2 linked regions of the Homo sapiens genome follow. The protein of the gene in region 1 interacts with the protein of each later gene in a pairwise test. Each region holds a gene or a part of one and is shown on either strand. Other genes may lie near its edges.

Region 1 (7,019 bases):
TGCCTAGGGACAGTGGGGCTATGTCTGTGGTTTAAAACAAAATCCCTTGAAGTGGAGCGTCCAGCTTGCCCTGCATCTGGGGTCCTTCATAGGGAACCCTAATTATTGTTGATGAACAGCACATTCCTGGGGTGCTTAAGATGCAGGGAGCCGATTTGTGGCCTCGCCCAGTGGCCAGTAGGGAGAGGAGGATGAGGGGACAGCCACTGGGGGCTCCACAGTCAGCTGGAAATCTCTGAAAGGAACACTTCAAAGAAGTGTGTGGAATTTGGGTTCTCTTGCGTTGGAACTACCATGCAGAGCTCCAGGACCAAAGCCTCGGTCAGGAGCAGGAGTGGTGCTGAGTAGAAACAATGGCGCCCAGTGCTTCCCAGCCTGGCCACGTGGGGAGAAACAAAACACGCCTCCTCTCATGGCCCTCCAAAGTCTTTTTGGGCCACCTTATTTGGACACTTAATGGGAGTTATTATTATTGTTATTTTGAGATGGAGTTTCGCTCTGTCTCCCAGGCTGGAGTACAGTGATGCCATCTCCGCTCACTGCAGCCTCCACCTCCCAAGTTCAAGTGATTCTCCTGCCTCAGCCTCTCGAGCAGCTGAGACTACAGGTGCCCGCCACCATGCTTAGCTAATTTTTGTATTTTTGTAGAGATGGGATTTCACCATGTTGTCCAGGCTGGTCTCGAACTTCTGACCTTAGGTGATCTGCCCATCTTGGCCTCCCAAAGTGCTGGGATTACAGGCATGAGCCACCACATCCGGCCTTAAAGGGAGTTATTAATTCCCTCCTGCCCCAGAAGTGCCGGGCGGGAAAGCTCTGGACGCAGTATTTCTGAAGCAGATTGGACAGAAATCTGCAGGCCTGCAAACTGCAGTCAACAAAACGCCATTGAGCAGAGAGAATGGAGCATTTGGCACAAATCAGCTGCTTGCCCTCTGGCCCTGGAGGAGGCAGCCAGGGTCAAGGCTGCCCTGGGAAGCCCTGATGCTGGTCGCTTGTTGAGCCCTCAGCCCGGTTACTGGCTTCCCTCCTTGACATGGTCTCAACTGGACATGAGCCTTTGTCCCCAGCTCTGTCCTATGGGCCAGCATCTCTTTGGCTCTGCAGAGGTGAGTGGAAGGCGCTCTAACTGCGGATGCTCAGAGCCTGGCTTTGTAAAGTAGCTTGCCACCCTTACTAACTGCACAACCTTGGGCAAGCTCCTGGCCTTCTCCAGGCCCATTTTCACATTAGCAAGAGAGGAATAATGGCCATCTTCACAGTGTTCTGAGAGGATTACATGAAATAATGTATGTAAAGTGTTTGGCATGGTGCCTGGCACATGCTGCATCCGTAGTAAAAAGGTAGCTTCTGCTCTGGTGTGCTAGAAACCCCCTGCCAGCCTTGCTTGGTGAGGTTATTTGCATCCATTTTTGTGCACACTGGTGGTATGCAGGCCCTCTGCTAGGTGCCAAGCCTTGTCAGGCTTAGTGCCTGCCCTGGTAGAAAAGACAAAGCAAGGCCCCCAGGAGCTGATTGGAGGTCATTACCAGGGGTCCTGCTTAATTATAGCCCAGTTATTAAGTGCTCCTGATTCAGCCTTTTCAAAGTCCTCCTTTGCCTGAAGAACCTCCTCTGCATGGGGCTGGACCATGCCTCTCCCTGCCTGCCCTTCACTGGTTCTGCTCTGCCTTCAGCACAACCCACATCCAGCTGGTGTTGAAATACCTCTGTGCCAACCCAGGAGAGCGCTAAACTTGCACAACTTTTGGGGCATATCTGGATATACCAGCATGTTCATCCTCTAGGCAAGAGACAGAGGGTGGCACGGGGCCTGGAGAAAAGGCTAGACTCGGGTCATGTCATCAATCACTCCTTCCTTTATCTTCTTAGAGCCTGTTGCCTCTCACTCCACCCCCATGGGTGCTCAGGCTGGCGCAGGACTCAGGGGGCCTCTGATGTGGCCCTCCCTGGGGATCGGGGCAACAGGAACAACACAACGCGAGACTCCTGTGGTCGAGGCCTGCCTTCCCTCAGATTAGCTTTTTGGGAAGTCTGCTCCCTTGGACTGCATTCTCCATGCTTTTCCCCAGCTGGTTTCCCTGCCCCTCCTCTTCACATTCTGACCTCCCTGTGCTGGATGTGGGACAGCTATCCTGTCTGTAAGATAAGATAATTAAAAGCCTGGTGGCTCTTTCCCTGCTGCCACCAAGTCATGCAGAGACGGAGGCTCAGGCTCAGTTGCGTTCAAGATTCGGCTTCACCCGTAACCCACTGCCATGGCCGAGGAAGGCATTGCTGCTGGAGGGGTAATGGACATTAATGCTGCTTTACAAGAGCTGTTGAAGACAGCCCTCATCCACGATGGCCTAGCACATGGAATTCGCAAAGCTACCAAAGCCTTAGACAAGCGCCAAGCCCATCTTTGTGTGCTTGCATCCAACGGTGATGAGACTGTGTATGTCAAGTTGGTGGAAGCCCTTTGTGCTGAGCACCAAATCAACCTAATTAAGGTTGATGACAAAAGAAACTGGGGGAATGGGTAGGTCTCTGTCAAATTGACAGAGAGGGGAAACCCCGTAAAGTGGTTGGTTGCAGTTGTATAGTAGTTAAGGACTATGGCAAGGAGTCTCAGGCCAAGCATGTCATCAGAGAGAACTTCTAATGCAAGAAATGAAGAAAATATCTTTGGCTCACAAAAAAAACAAAAAAAGCCTGGTGCCCACAGCGGCTCTATACTTATTAGCTCACCATCGACCCTCTTCTGGGCACTGAATACTGGAACACTAAGGGGTGGCTCCTGCCCTGTGGCAGAGATGGTCACAGAAGAGTAGAGTGGCTACAGAGTGATACACAGAGGTGGAGTGTTCTGTCCAGCTGCTAGAGTTCTGCCTCCCAGGCCTGTGATCTGACTTGTTGTGCATGGAAGCTCTATTCTGCACTCCTGGATCCATCTGGAAGCCCATCCTGTAGTCTTAACAGGCTTCCGAGAGGTGGGGGGCCTGTGGCGAGGGGGTTTCAGTGGGGATGGTAGGTAGGAGACAGAAGCCATCATTTTACCATACTCCTAAAGAGGAGCCAAATTAGCCAACTCGTGTCCTCTTTTTTGGCATCTTTTGGCCCATCCTCTAGGAAGGGGGCCAACTGGAAGAGCAAATAAAAGCGGCCATTGCGGTGCACTCCCTGTGTGCCAGGCACTGCTGTTGGATGTGGAAGTGCATTGCTTTATCTCATGCAGATGAGGAAACCAAAGCTCAGTGAAGCTAACTCATTATCAAGGTCATGCAGCTATAGAAGAGTTTGGGACCAAGCCTTGGGCCACAGTTCTCGATTCAGCAACCACATTCTTTCCATTAGAACAGCTGCCTCCTGCTTCACCTGTGAATCGTACAAAAGCAGCAAGATGACCCGGCTCAGCCCTTGAATAATTGCAGGTTATATTTTTCCATCTGTTAAAGAAATCTGTTGAGGTCAGTCTCTGGACGGGGCAGGGGATCCAGCCGAGGCCCCTGGTTGCATGGCCATAGTTGGGAAGAGGGCAGAGCTGGCAGACATGTGGCACACAGGAGACTGAGGCACACATCTCAGACAGAAGTTTGCAAACTGAAGGGTAGTGGGCCACAGCCAGCCTGGAGATACATTTTGTTTGACTTCCAAGTTCTTTAGAAAAATTTTAATTAGGCCAGGTGCGGTGGCTCACGCCTATAATCCCAGCACTTTGGGAGGCCGAGGCGGGTGGACCACTTGAGGTCAGGAGTTTCGAGACCAGCCTGGCCAACGTGGTGAAACCCCATCTCTACTAAAAATAGAAAAATTAACTGGGCATGGTGGCAGGCACCTGTAATCCCAGCTACTCAGGAGGCTAAGGGAGGAGAATCACTTGAACCTGGGAGACAGGGGTTGCAGTGAGCCGAGATCATGCCATTGCACTCCAGCCTGGAAGACAAGAGCAAAACTCCATCTCAAAAAAAAAAAAAGAAAGAAAAATTTTAATTAGTTGCTGATATTTAAAACTTAGGAAATTTTACATAAAAATCTAGGTTTCCAGCTTTTCTGAAGGTCTGGTAAGGTTGGACCCCCATTCCGTGTAGCAGCACGTGTCTGGGGCCTAAGTCTTGCGTGTGAAAAAGGGCTAGAGTAAAAGTAGAAGGCAAGAAGCAAGGGGAGGAGTAGGGAGCATGGGGAGAACCCATCTTGATTATTGATGGTCACTGACCCCTAATCTTTGCAGAGCTTTGCACTGCCACGTACTGTGTTTATTTAGTCTTCTCAGCAATCCTGCAAGGCAGCCCTCTCAGGACTGAGAATTTGTTCGGGGTTGCACAGTGGGTCAGTGATCAAGTGAGGATTCACACACATGTCTTGTGCCCCTTCCAGTCCGTGAAGCTTGTTTCTTGTCTCCCTACCATACTTTCAGCTGTCATACTTCCACCTGTCATACTTAATTCTTTTTTTCTTTTTCTTTTTTTTTTTTGAGATGGGGTCTCACTCTGTCACCCAGGCTGCAGTGGTGAGATCTTGGCTCACTGCAACCTCCACCTCCCAGGCTTAAGCGATCTTCCCACCTCAGCCTCCTGAGTAGCTGGGACCTCAGGCATATGCCACCATGCCCAGCTAATTTTTGCATTCTTGGTAGAGACAGGGTTTCATCATGTTGCCCAGGCTGGTCTCGAGCTCCTGTCAGCTGTTATACTTCTATGTGTTCAGTGCTTTTGGGAGGGGTCAGAGTGGTAGCAGTGCTTCTCAGACACACTTTTGTGAGTGTGATGCTTCAGGACCTCCACGTTGCCCCATTTTTATCTGGGGCCCCTCTCTGGGCTGGAGCACTCTCACTGGGACTGTGTCATTCATTTGTTTAGTCAACAAACATTTATGGAACAACTGCTGGGAGCTCACCTGACCAGTTGATACAAATATGAATAAGACATGGTCTTGATCTTGAAGATGCTGTCAGCTTGGTGGAAAAGAAGAGCACAAAGACCGGGCGCGGTGGCTCACACCTGTAATCCCAACACTTTGGGAGGCCGAGGCAGGCGGATCAGCTGAGGTCAGGAGTTCAAGACCAGCCTGGCCAACATGGTGAAACCCCATCTCTACTAAAAAAATATATATATATATACAAAAATTAGCCGGGCATGATGGCGGGTGCCTGTAATTCCGGCTACTCAGGAGGCTGAGGCTGAGGCGGAAGAATCGCTTGAACCCAAGGTTCAAGGTTGCAGTGAGCCAAGATCATGCCATTGCACTCTAGCCTGGGCGACAGAGCAAGACTGTCTTAAAAAAAAAAGAGAGAAGAGCGCAGAAAGACCCTCCTCATCATCATCAAACATCAAACATTGCCATCATCCGACAGTGTCACCAGTGCACTACAAGACGTGTGAACAGGAAATGATGGGCATACGGAGAAGGGCCCTTGCCCAGCCGGGGATCCAGGAAGGCCTCCTGGAGGAGGTGGAACTGAGCCAAGTCTCAAAGGATGAGTGTGAGTTAGTCAAAAGGAAAGCCTTCTGGGTGGAGGGGACTTCCTGAACAGACCGGAGATGAGAGAATTGGGCCCTTGAGTTGCAGTTCCATGTCACTTGGTCGAACCAAGAGGTGGGTGGGTGGCAAGCACTAGCAAGTTAGGAGCTTGGACGACGGGGTGCTATTGAAGTTTTTAGGCAGAACAGTGACGGCTCCCAGAGAGCCCTCTGGCTGCAGCATAGCAGCTGGCCTGGAGATGGGAGGCTGGTTGGGAGGCTGCTGTGATGGTGGCCTAGGTGAGAGAGGATGGTGCCAGGCTCAGGACTGCGGTAGTGGGGATGGTGAGGGGAATGGATTTGGAAAATATTGAGAGAAAATTGGCAGGATTTGATTATAGACTGGACTTCTGAGGAAGGAGGATGGTGAGACACCCAGGTGAGTGGTGCCACACACAAACACAAAATGCCAAGCCAGGGAGTGGGACTGGAAGGGGGCGGTGAGGTGGTGGGAGGCACCCACAGAGGCCCTTCTGCACTGTGGGGTCTGGTGTGTTGGAGGAAGATCTGCACTTGGATGAGGAGATTTGGGGATCGCCAGCATCCGCGTCATTGAAGTGATGAGCATGGACGTGTGACCCAGGGGCTTGAACGGAGTTAAGAAGAGCAGGGCCAGGAGCAGACAGACCTAGAGAGCAAGAACATTCAGGAGCAAAGCCTGAGGCAGGAGGGTGGTCATCAACACAGATGCTGCAGCCAGGTGGCCCAGGGTCGGGCGGCATCCCCACCACTCCTCCCGGGGATGACTTGCACCTGAAACAGAGGTAATAAAACACAGCAGCCTTGTGAGGATGACATGACTTAATCCGTTTAAAGGGCTGAGAAAGTGCTCACATACTTTAGCTCTTTGAGGGCTAGAGGCCCAGAAGGCATGTGAGGGAGACACGGAGTGATGCTTGAGACTGGGGGCACAGGTACCTAGAGGACGGGGTGGCGTGGCCCGTGTCTGGGGTCTGTCAGCGAGGCGATCCCTGGGCTCTTGGCAGGGCTGGCACTGCTGAACGTGGGGCTGGCTGAGGCCCAACTTCTGTGGAGGAGTGAGTGGAAGGTGAGAGGCAGAGATGGCATGGGGTGGCTGTTCTCTTTGGGAGCTTGTCTAAGGCAGGTGGAGGGAGGCACAAAAGTTTCTAGAATGGACATTGGAACAAAAACTGCTTTCTGACAGGTAGAGTTGGTGACATAGGATTTGGTCTCTGAGGAGATGGGGTGGGAAGTTGAGGTTGTTTATGCCTGATGACCCCGATTTCCTTGGAAGAAGTGGAGACATCTATAAAAGCAGGAAGGCAGACCCAGGGCAGAGGCCCTAGAAGCCGGGTTGTTAGAGGGGAGCCAGCCCCTGAGCAGAGGGACTGAGCGTGTCCCTGTGTAGACCTGTGAGCAGGCAGGCGGCAGGCAGGCTCCTAAGGTGACGGCAGTGGTCTGTGCACCCATGGCACAGGCCCTAGGTCGGGACTGGGACTGCCTGGGGGTTCTGGCAGAGGCTCTTCGTCTGCCCACTTGGGGCTGTAGCAATGGCTTTCC
Region 2 (7,890 bases), on another chromosome or scaffold:
CAATTTACCAATCTAGCGGTCACCCAAAAATTGTATTGAGGGAATAACAAAAAAGATCTTGAATCAAAAAAGATCCGGAAAATAAAAATTCTGCCCAGTGTCATTTCACAATATTACCTACTTAAAATACACACGGCCCACATATTCCCTTGTAGAAGGTTAAGGCAACCAAAAAATGTACCGAAAGTCTACGAGGAAACACACCAATCCCAGATCCAAGTTCAGTTTTGTCTTAAAACCCACAAAACATGACCCCAACATTGAAAAGCACAGAAACTAAGACATTCGTGGGATATCTCGGTTTGAACCCGAGCGGTCACTAACAGTTTCTCTTTCCCAGTCCTGTGACAGCCAAGGAGGCGGCCCCGCGGGAACCAGGTCCTGCGAGGAGGGCGGTCGGCCGCTCCCTCCCGACTCCCTCCTGGGCCGGCGGCCCAGGGTGCGGCGCTGCCAGCAGGTTGATCGGGCGGAGCTTTGGGAGCGGCTCGACTGACCGCCCGAGGGGCTGAGGCTTCAAGGCGAGATCACCGCCGGCCAAATAAGAATAAACAAACTCCAAAGAAAAAAAAAAGCCTTTCCGCCTTCCCTCATTGGACAGCGAGACAGAGTCTTGGGCTCCTCCGCACGCACCTTCTCCAGCAATCATTTTTCCCCTGCCCAAGTTCACTTCCCACGGCCGCTCTTCCGAGGCCCCCGGCCAGCCCCCGGTCCTCGCCGCGCCTCCCCGCGTCGGGGGTCCGGGGCGGCGGCCCTCCAGGCCCAGGGCACAGGGCGGATCCCGGGGTGCGCCAGCTAGGAGGGCCGGGTTGAGACGCCGCGCCCGGCCGCCCGCGGCCCCGGCGCTATTCGGCCCCTGCCCCAGTCCCCACTGCTGCGCCGGGACGTTCGAGGGGGCGCCCGGCCAGCCGCGGCTCCCAGCGCGAACTCGTCTCCCACGCCCCCACAGCCCACGGTGGCCACTGCCCTCCCAACCCACCGGGGGCTGGGGTTCCGAGTCCTGTCACGGTTGTCCGCCCTCAGTTCCACTCTCACTTGGGCGAGTGGCCCCCGTCGCGGCTTCTCTCGGGGCTAAGGTCGGGTCCCCGGCTGCCCTGCCCCCGCCTCCGTCCCCCGCCCATGGTCTCCCGGTCCCGCGGCGCGGCCAGGCCGCCGCCCGCCGTACCTGGTGGTGGTTATAGGAGTTCCTCTGCTGCAGGAAGGCGGCGGCCGCCGCCTGGTGCTGCTGCTGGAGCTGCGGGCTGACGGGCGACCTCCGGCTCTGCGGCTGCTGCGGCGCCGCGGGCGGCGGGGGCTGCTGTTGAGGTATATTCATGGCGGGCGGCGGCGGAGGGGGCACAGCGGTAGCCGAGAAGGGGCCGCCGAAGCCGCCGCCGCCGCCGCCGCTCGTCGGAACGCTGAGCCCAGTGCAGCCGTGCGGCGACACGGGCGAGAAGCTAGGGAAGAAGGCCGGGTTCATGGACGACGGCAGCCCGGGGTAGAAGCCGTTCTCTGAGTCGGGGCTGGGCGGCGGCATGGCGCTGAGCGAGCCGCCGCTGCCGCCGCCCGGGGTGGTGGCAGACGAGCCGGGCGGCTGCGGCTGCGGCTGGGGCGGCTGCTGGGGTGGCGGCGGCTGCTGCTGCGGCTGGGTCGGCGGCGGCTGCTGGGGCTGGGGTGGCGGCGACGCGGTCTGCACCGACCAGGGGGTGCCGAAGCCGGGCAGCGGCGGCGGCGACGCGGAGCCGCCTCCCCCTCCGCCTCCTGGGGGCCCCCCGCCCCCGCCGCCGCCGCCGCCGCCCGGGTGTGGAAGGTCCGGGCTCTGCAGGCTGCTGAAGGCGCCCGCGCCAAGCGCACCTCCGGGCAGGAGGTTACTGGGACTGTTGAGCAGAGGGTGGTTGGGGGACTCCATGGAGCCCGGCGCGGGGTTCACCGGCGTCGAGGAGGCCAAGCCCGCATTGGGGGACTCGGCGGCGCTGCCCTCGCCCGCGGCTGGGGTCTTGCGAGGGCTGCCCGCGCCTCCGTGGCGGCGCCGCGGGGCTGCAGGCGGCGAGGGAGGGAGCTGCGGGAGCGGGGGCAGGTCTGCCGGACGCTGCCGCGGGGCGAAGTCCTGCGGCGAGAGGTGCTGCTGATGCAGGAGGCTGAACTGCTGCGGCGGCTGTTGCTGCTGGCGCTGAGCGAGCTGCGCCGGCTGGAGGAGCGGGCCGGCTGGCGGCGGCGGCGGGCTGAACCGACCGGGGCAGTGGAGCGGCGGAGGCGGCGGCGGCGGCTTCGAGTCCGGAGGGTGGGGAAGGTGGGGAGGGCTGAACTCTTTCCTCTTCTGGCTGCTCAGCTGCTGCTGCTGCCGCTTACTGAAGTCCTGCGGGGAGGAGGTGCGGCAGCAGCAGCAGGAGGAGGCGGAGGAGGAGGAGGGGTGGTGCAGACTCGGTTTGAAGTCCTGGGAGGGGAGGAGGTGGGTCACACCCGCGATCGTGCCGCCGCCGGGGTGGTGGTCGGGGAGTTTCTCCGTGGCCGCCGCCCCCGAAAGCGGCCGCGCCGGCTGCTGTGTCAGCCCCAGAAGCAGCTCATCCTGCATGGTCTGCTGATGCGCCAGGAACGGGGAGGAAGAGGAAGCGGCGGCGGCCGGGCTGCCCGCGCCGCCGCCGAGGGGGACGGAGAAGGGGGAGGCGGCCTCTAAGAAGCCGGTGACAGGCAACGGTGGTGGCGACAGTGGGCCGAAGGGCGTGGCGGAGGGCAGCGGGTTGACGGACCCCACGGCGTAAGGACCATACGCCTCGCCGCAGAACAGGGGCCCAGGACTGCTACTTCGGAGCGGGGCGGTCTGCAGCACCCCAAACCCGAAATCCCTCATTTATCAGGCCGCCGGCAGCGGGAGGAGACGCTCCTCGTCCCCTGCCCCACCTAGGAAGCCGCCGGCGCTGGGGTTGCGCGGCCGTGGTGGAAGGAGGGGGAGTCAGTGAGAGAGGGACACCGTGACTGAGCCAGGGGGCACCGACTTCGGCCCCACCACCCCTCGCGGCGATCGCCGCCGCCGCCGCCGTCGCAGTCGCCGTAGCCGCCCTGGCCGCTTAAGAACCCCGGAACGTGCGTCAGCGCCACCTCACAATCGCGCCGCCCCCCGCGGTGCGTCCCGGCACGCGCGGGCGCGAGGCCACCGCGTCCCCGTCGCCCCTCCCCGCCCCTCATTACTATGCAGACGCAGCCGAGGGCGCGCTCGCGCTCCCGGGAGGGCGGGAGCGAGCGGCGTGTCCCGTTGGGTCTCTCCGCTCCCGGGGAAATGGACAGGCCGGTTGGGGTGGGGGTCGGCTGGCAAACAGTGGTCGGGAGCATTGGGCGGGCGCGCGCACGAGGGCAAGCACGCGCGGGAGGGAGGGACGGTTCCTGGGCAACGGCCCCTCCTTGGCGCGGGATCCGCGCAGAGTCTGCCTGGGTCGCACGCGTCTCCGCCCCTCGCGGTGCCTCCTCCTTCCTGTCACCTCGGTTCCGCCCTGGGTGGGGAGAAGCCCTGCTGCACCACTCGGGCTTCCCAGAGCGGGGCTGGCCCGCGGGGGAAACTGAGGCCCGGGACCCCGACCGGCGCCTGCACTGTGCGACCCGCGTAGAAATAGGCGCCCGAGGGGCCCCCAGCGCAACGCGGGAGCCCGGCCCAGCCCGGGGGTCCTGTGGTGAACTAGCGTCTGGGCTCTGCCGGCTTGAAGTCCGCTGAGCGCCTCGCCGCGCACCTCTAGACCCCGAGTCCCCGATCTAGGGCCTCCTTGTAGCCCTAGGTAGCGCCCTCTAAGCTTGTTTCTGTTTTTAGGCGCTGGTAGGAGTGCTGTCACCGACGTCGTAGAGCCGCCGAGGGTGTTTCTGTAGGGTAAACATGAAGCCTCGGCTATATTCCAGGCATTTTCACTTGGGTAAGAAGGAACAAAGTCCCTGGAACAAACACGCTCCGCGTGGTTATTTACACACTCGGATGCGTGGAACGGGTTCCACGGCGAGCTCCCATAGTAACCCCGGGCCAGCTCCGCTTCATAAAAGCCTTTCGTGTGCCATCAGGGCTGCAGCGTGGGACTCCTCCCCACCACATTCATTCCGGCGTCCCCGCCCCTTCCCCCCAGGGAGACTCTAATTTATTCCTAAGCTTTATGAATTTTCAAGGGAGAAATAGTTCTTACATCAGGGAAAAAAGGAGGTTCTGACTCAGCAGCAGACTTGTTGAGACTTGCAAAATGGAAGGGAGAGAGCTTTCCATGGTAGAGCTCTTTAGAAGCATTAGAGGAGGAACTAATCCTGTGTTTCCTTTTGTATAGAAACATTTTACATAAAGTATTTGAAGGTCTAGATAAAGAATAACAGAGTGATCCATACTACATGATGAGGTGAACTTTATGTTTCTGTTTTGTAATTTTAACTGTTTTGCTTGATGCTTAGAGAAATGAAACTATTAAATGAATCCTAGAATATAGACTCAAACCCCCAAAGCAATAGAAGGTGGATTCAGACTTTACTTGATTTTGGTTTACAAGTGAACTAAGATTAAATATTTAATTTTATAAATTAGCATACTCTTACTGATGTAGGCAGAGTGTACATTTTTATAAGTCCTCATTCTCTATTTGAATTCTACTTCTGTTCAGTGTCTCAAATTTATATAAATCGAAATAAACATGGTAGAAAGAGAGCAACATTGCCCCAGGGAACTATACTTCATGTATAATGTTTATCTCTGCTATCCTGTCCAATGAACCAAGTTTTATGTTGCCTTTACAATAAGGAAAAAGTACTTTTTAAAAAACTCAAATGGTTCAGAATTTGGTCAGGTGAATAGAAAATTGGTTCAACTTATTAATCTCAAAATCATTTTTAACAGTCAGGCAAAATGTAGAACTGGAGAAGTATTTTTATTCTAAATTACAATGTCTAGAAAATAACCTGAGCTCAGAATTTAAAATATAAATGGTTATTTTCAGAGTATATATTGACATATTAAATATTCATTTTTTAAAAGGTATTGTGCAGGAAAAAAAACTACTTCTGCAACTAAGGAATGTAAAGTCTTAACAACGGATGATTTTTTTCCAAGTACAGTTGTATTTGATTGGAATCATTTGCAGATCCAACAACAAATCTTGAAATAGGGGGAAAATACAGGTATAAACCTTAGCTCAATTATCCACTAACACCGCAGTTAGTAAAGAGGAGAGAGCACATACTTTTAAAAGCTAACTGGTGCCTTTCTGGGCTAGAGTTTTGAACAAAAACAAGATTTCTTAGTGCTCTGGTACTAGTTTTGTCTTAGAGGATTTAGAGCTCTCTGAAACGGGGAAAAGCCATCAAGTTTGTTATTACATAATAATGTCAAACTTCATATTAAATACACCAAATTCCAAATCCTGCCAGGGCCTCTACTCACTACTTTTGTGAGGGCCCCATTTTTTTAGAGCAGAAAGTTACTTTCTGACATCTTGTAAGCTGGTGATCTTGCCCTTATTGAAAATATTCAAATGAAAAGGTTTCCTAGGGTGGAGAGTGGAGTGGGGTAGGGAGAAGGAGCAGCAAATACTGAGGAGGGACTATGGTCCTCTAGCAGTTTCCATGCCAAGATCTTATGAGTCCATTCAATGATTTTTTTGGTTTTTTACATGAAAATATTTTGACTCATGATCATTAACTAGGACCTTGACTTTGTATTTGACAGTCCCTTATTCATTTACTCCCACTGTCCTGGGCAAGTATTTTTAAAAGTATTTTTGCTACAACCCAATATATGTGCAAGTACACACTCATGCAACTGAAATAAAGCTGCTATTAAGCAATTCTTTTAATAATGCAACAAACTCCTTTTTATAATTCTATTTTCATTTTAAAATCACGTTTGATCTCAAATTACAAAGTTGGTTTTAACACCCTCTATCAGATTATGAACTGAAAAACCACTGTCCTAGACCATTTCAAACATTCTGCTCAATCTGAAAACCTCTTGTCACATCTCTCCTACATGCATCTGCTAGCATGTAGCACTCTCAGCTGCTGAGCTACATGCTTATTTCACTGAGAAAAAAGAAGCAACCACAGGAAAACTTCCACAGTCTCCCTGCATCTGTCCCTGCACACCTTGCCTTCCCTCTCGATACAATGGATGGCCCATCTGCCCATACTCCTGTCTAAGGCCAGCCTCTCCACTGGCGGAGCAGATCCTACCTCTAACCTACTCAAGACATGGGCTCCAACAGTTTTCTCTCTCTGTCCTTCATCATGACCTCTTTCCTCTCCAGGAAACACTTCCATGTGCACAAAAACTTGCTTTACTAGTTCTCACCTTTGAAAAGTAAAGCCAAAACCTTTTGACCTTATATTCTCCCTCCTTTAGCTACTGCCTTCTTTTTCTGCTTTTACATTGCCTGAACGACTTGCCCATTTGACTGAGTGTCTCATAGATACCTCAAATTAAACACGTCAAAAATTAAACTCCCTGCCTCACTAGGCCCAATCCCTGTGGCGCTCCATTGTTCTGGTTGCTCAGGCCAAAAACCCTGGAGTCATTCTTCACTTCAATCCACTTCTGTCCTTCTTGCATCATATCCAAGCCATCAGAACATGTTGCTTGTCCTACCTTTAAATTACTGGCATAACCTAGAGATACCGTGGGTTTTGTTCCAGATTACCACAATAAAGCAAATATCCCAATAAAGCAAGTCACACCAATTTTTTGGTTTCCCAGTGCATGTAAAAGTTATGTTTACAGTATATTATACTCTAAACATAAGTTCTCAATTATAGTCTAAACATAACTTGTAATTACATTTAAATAAGTGCACAGTAGCATTATTCTGAAAAATATACACACATTAATTTAAAAATACTGCTAAAAAGTGCTAATGATCATCTGAGCCTTCAGTAAGTCATAATCTTTTTGTCAGTGGAGAGTCTTGTCTCGACATTCATGGCTGCTGACTGATCAGCATGGTGGTGGCTGAAGGCGGAGGTGGTTGTGGCAATTTCTTAAGACAAAGATAGAGTTTGTCACATAAATTGAATCTCCCTTTCATGAAAGATTTCTCTGTACCATGCAATGCTGTTTGATAGCATTTTGTCCACAGAACTTCTTTCAAAATTAGTCAGTCCTCTCAAAACCTGCTAATGCTTTATCATCTAAATTTATGTAATATTCTAAATCTTTTTTGTCATTTCAGCAGTGTTCATAGCATCTTCATGAGGAGTAGATTCCGTCTCAAGAAACCACTTTCTTTGCTTATCCATGAGCAGCAACTCCTTCTCCATTCAAGTTTTATTGTAATATTGCAGCAATTCAGTCACATCCTCAGGCTCCACTTCTAATTCTAGTTCTCTTGCTATTTTTACTACATCTGCAGTAACTTCCTTCACTGAAGTCTTGAACCCCTCGAAGTCATCCAAGAGGGTTGGAATCAGCTTCTTCCAAACTCCAGTTAATGTTGACACTTTGACCTCCCATGAGTCACACATATTCTGAATGGCAGCTAGAATGGTGAATCCCTTCCAGAAGGTTTTCAATTTGCTTTGCCCTTATCCATCAGAGAAATCACTATGGCAGCTATAGCCTTATGAAATTTATTTCTAAAATAATACTTGAGGCTGTCCTGGTGACAACTTAGTGATTTTAAATTTTAAAATGAAAATAGAATTATAAAGAGGAGTTAGTTGCATTATTAGAAGAATTGCTTAATAGCAGCTTTATTTCAAAACAATCTCAGCACTTTGGGAGGCCAAGGCGGGCAGGTCACTTGAGGTCAGGAGTTCAAGACCAGCCTTGCCAACATGGTGAAAACCATTCACTTCTAAAAATACAAAAATTAGCTGGGTGTGGTGGCGCATGCCTGTAATCTCAGCTAATTGGGAGGCTGAGGCAGGAGAATCGCTTGAACCTGGGAGGCGGAAGTTGCAGGGAGCCGA

Evidence for each region.
Region 2: the proteins of SEMA4B (region 1) and CPEB2 interact in a two-hybrid assay, tested with the Homo sapiens proteins (one study listed by BioGRID).

What each region holds. Positions count from the first base shown.
Region 1 is NC_000015.10:90,204,312-90,211,330, forward strand, and holds part of SEMA4B (semaphorin-4B isoform 1 precursor), read left to right. Parts: intron 1-2,170; exon of another isoform or gene 2,171-2,677; intron 2,678-7,019. UniProt on the Homo sapiens protein: Inhibits axonal extension by providing local signals to specify territories inaccessible for growing axons.
Region 2 is NC_000004.12:14,997,608-15,005,497, reverse strand, and holds the start of CPEB2 (cytoplasmic polyadenylation element-binding protein 2), read right to left. Parts: upstream 3,018-7,890; 5' UTR 2,825-3,017; coding exon 1,163-2,824; intron 1,001-1,162; exon of another isoform or gene 977-1,000; intron 654-976; exon of another isoform or gene 631-653; intron 557-630; exon of another isoform or gene 341-556; intron 1-340. UniProt on the Homo sapiens protein: May play a role in translational regulation of stored mRNAs in transcriptionally inactive haploid spermatids. Binds to poly(U) RNA oligomers. Required for cell cycle progression, specifically for the transition from metaphase to anaphase.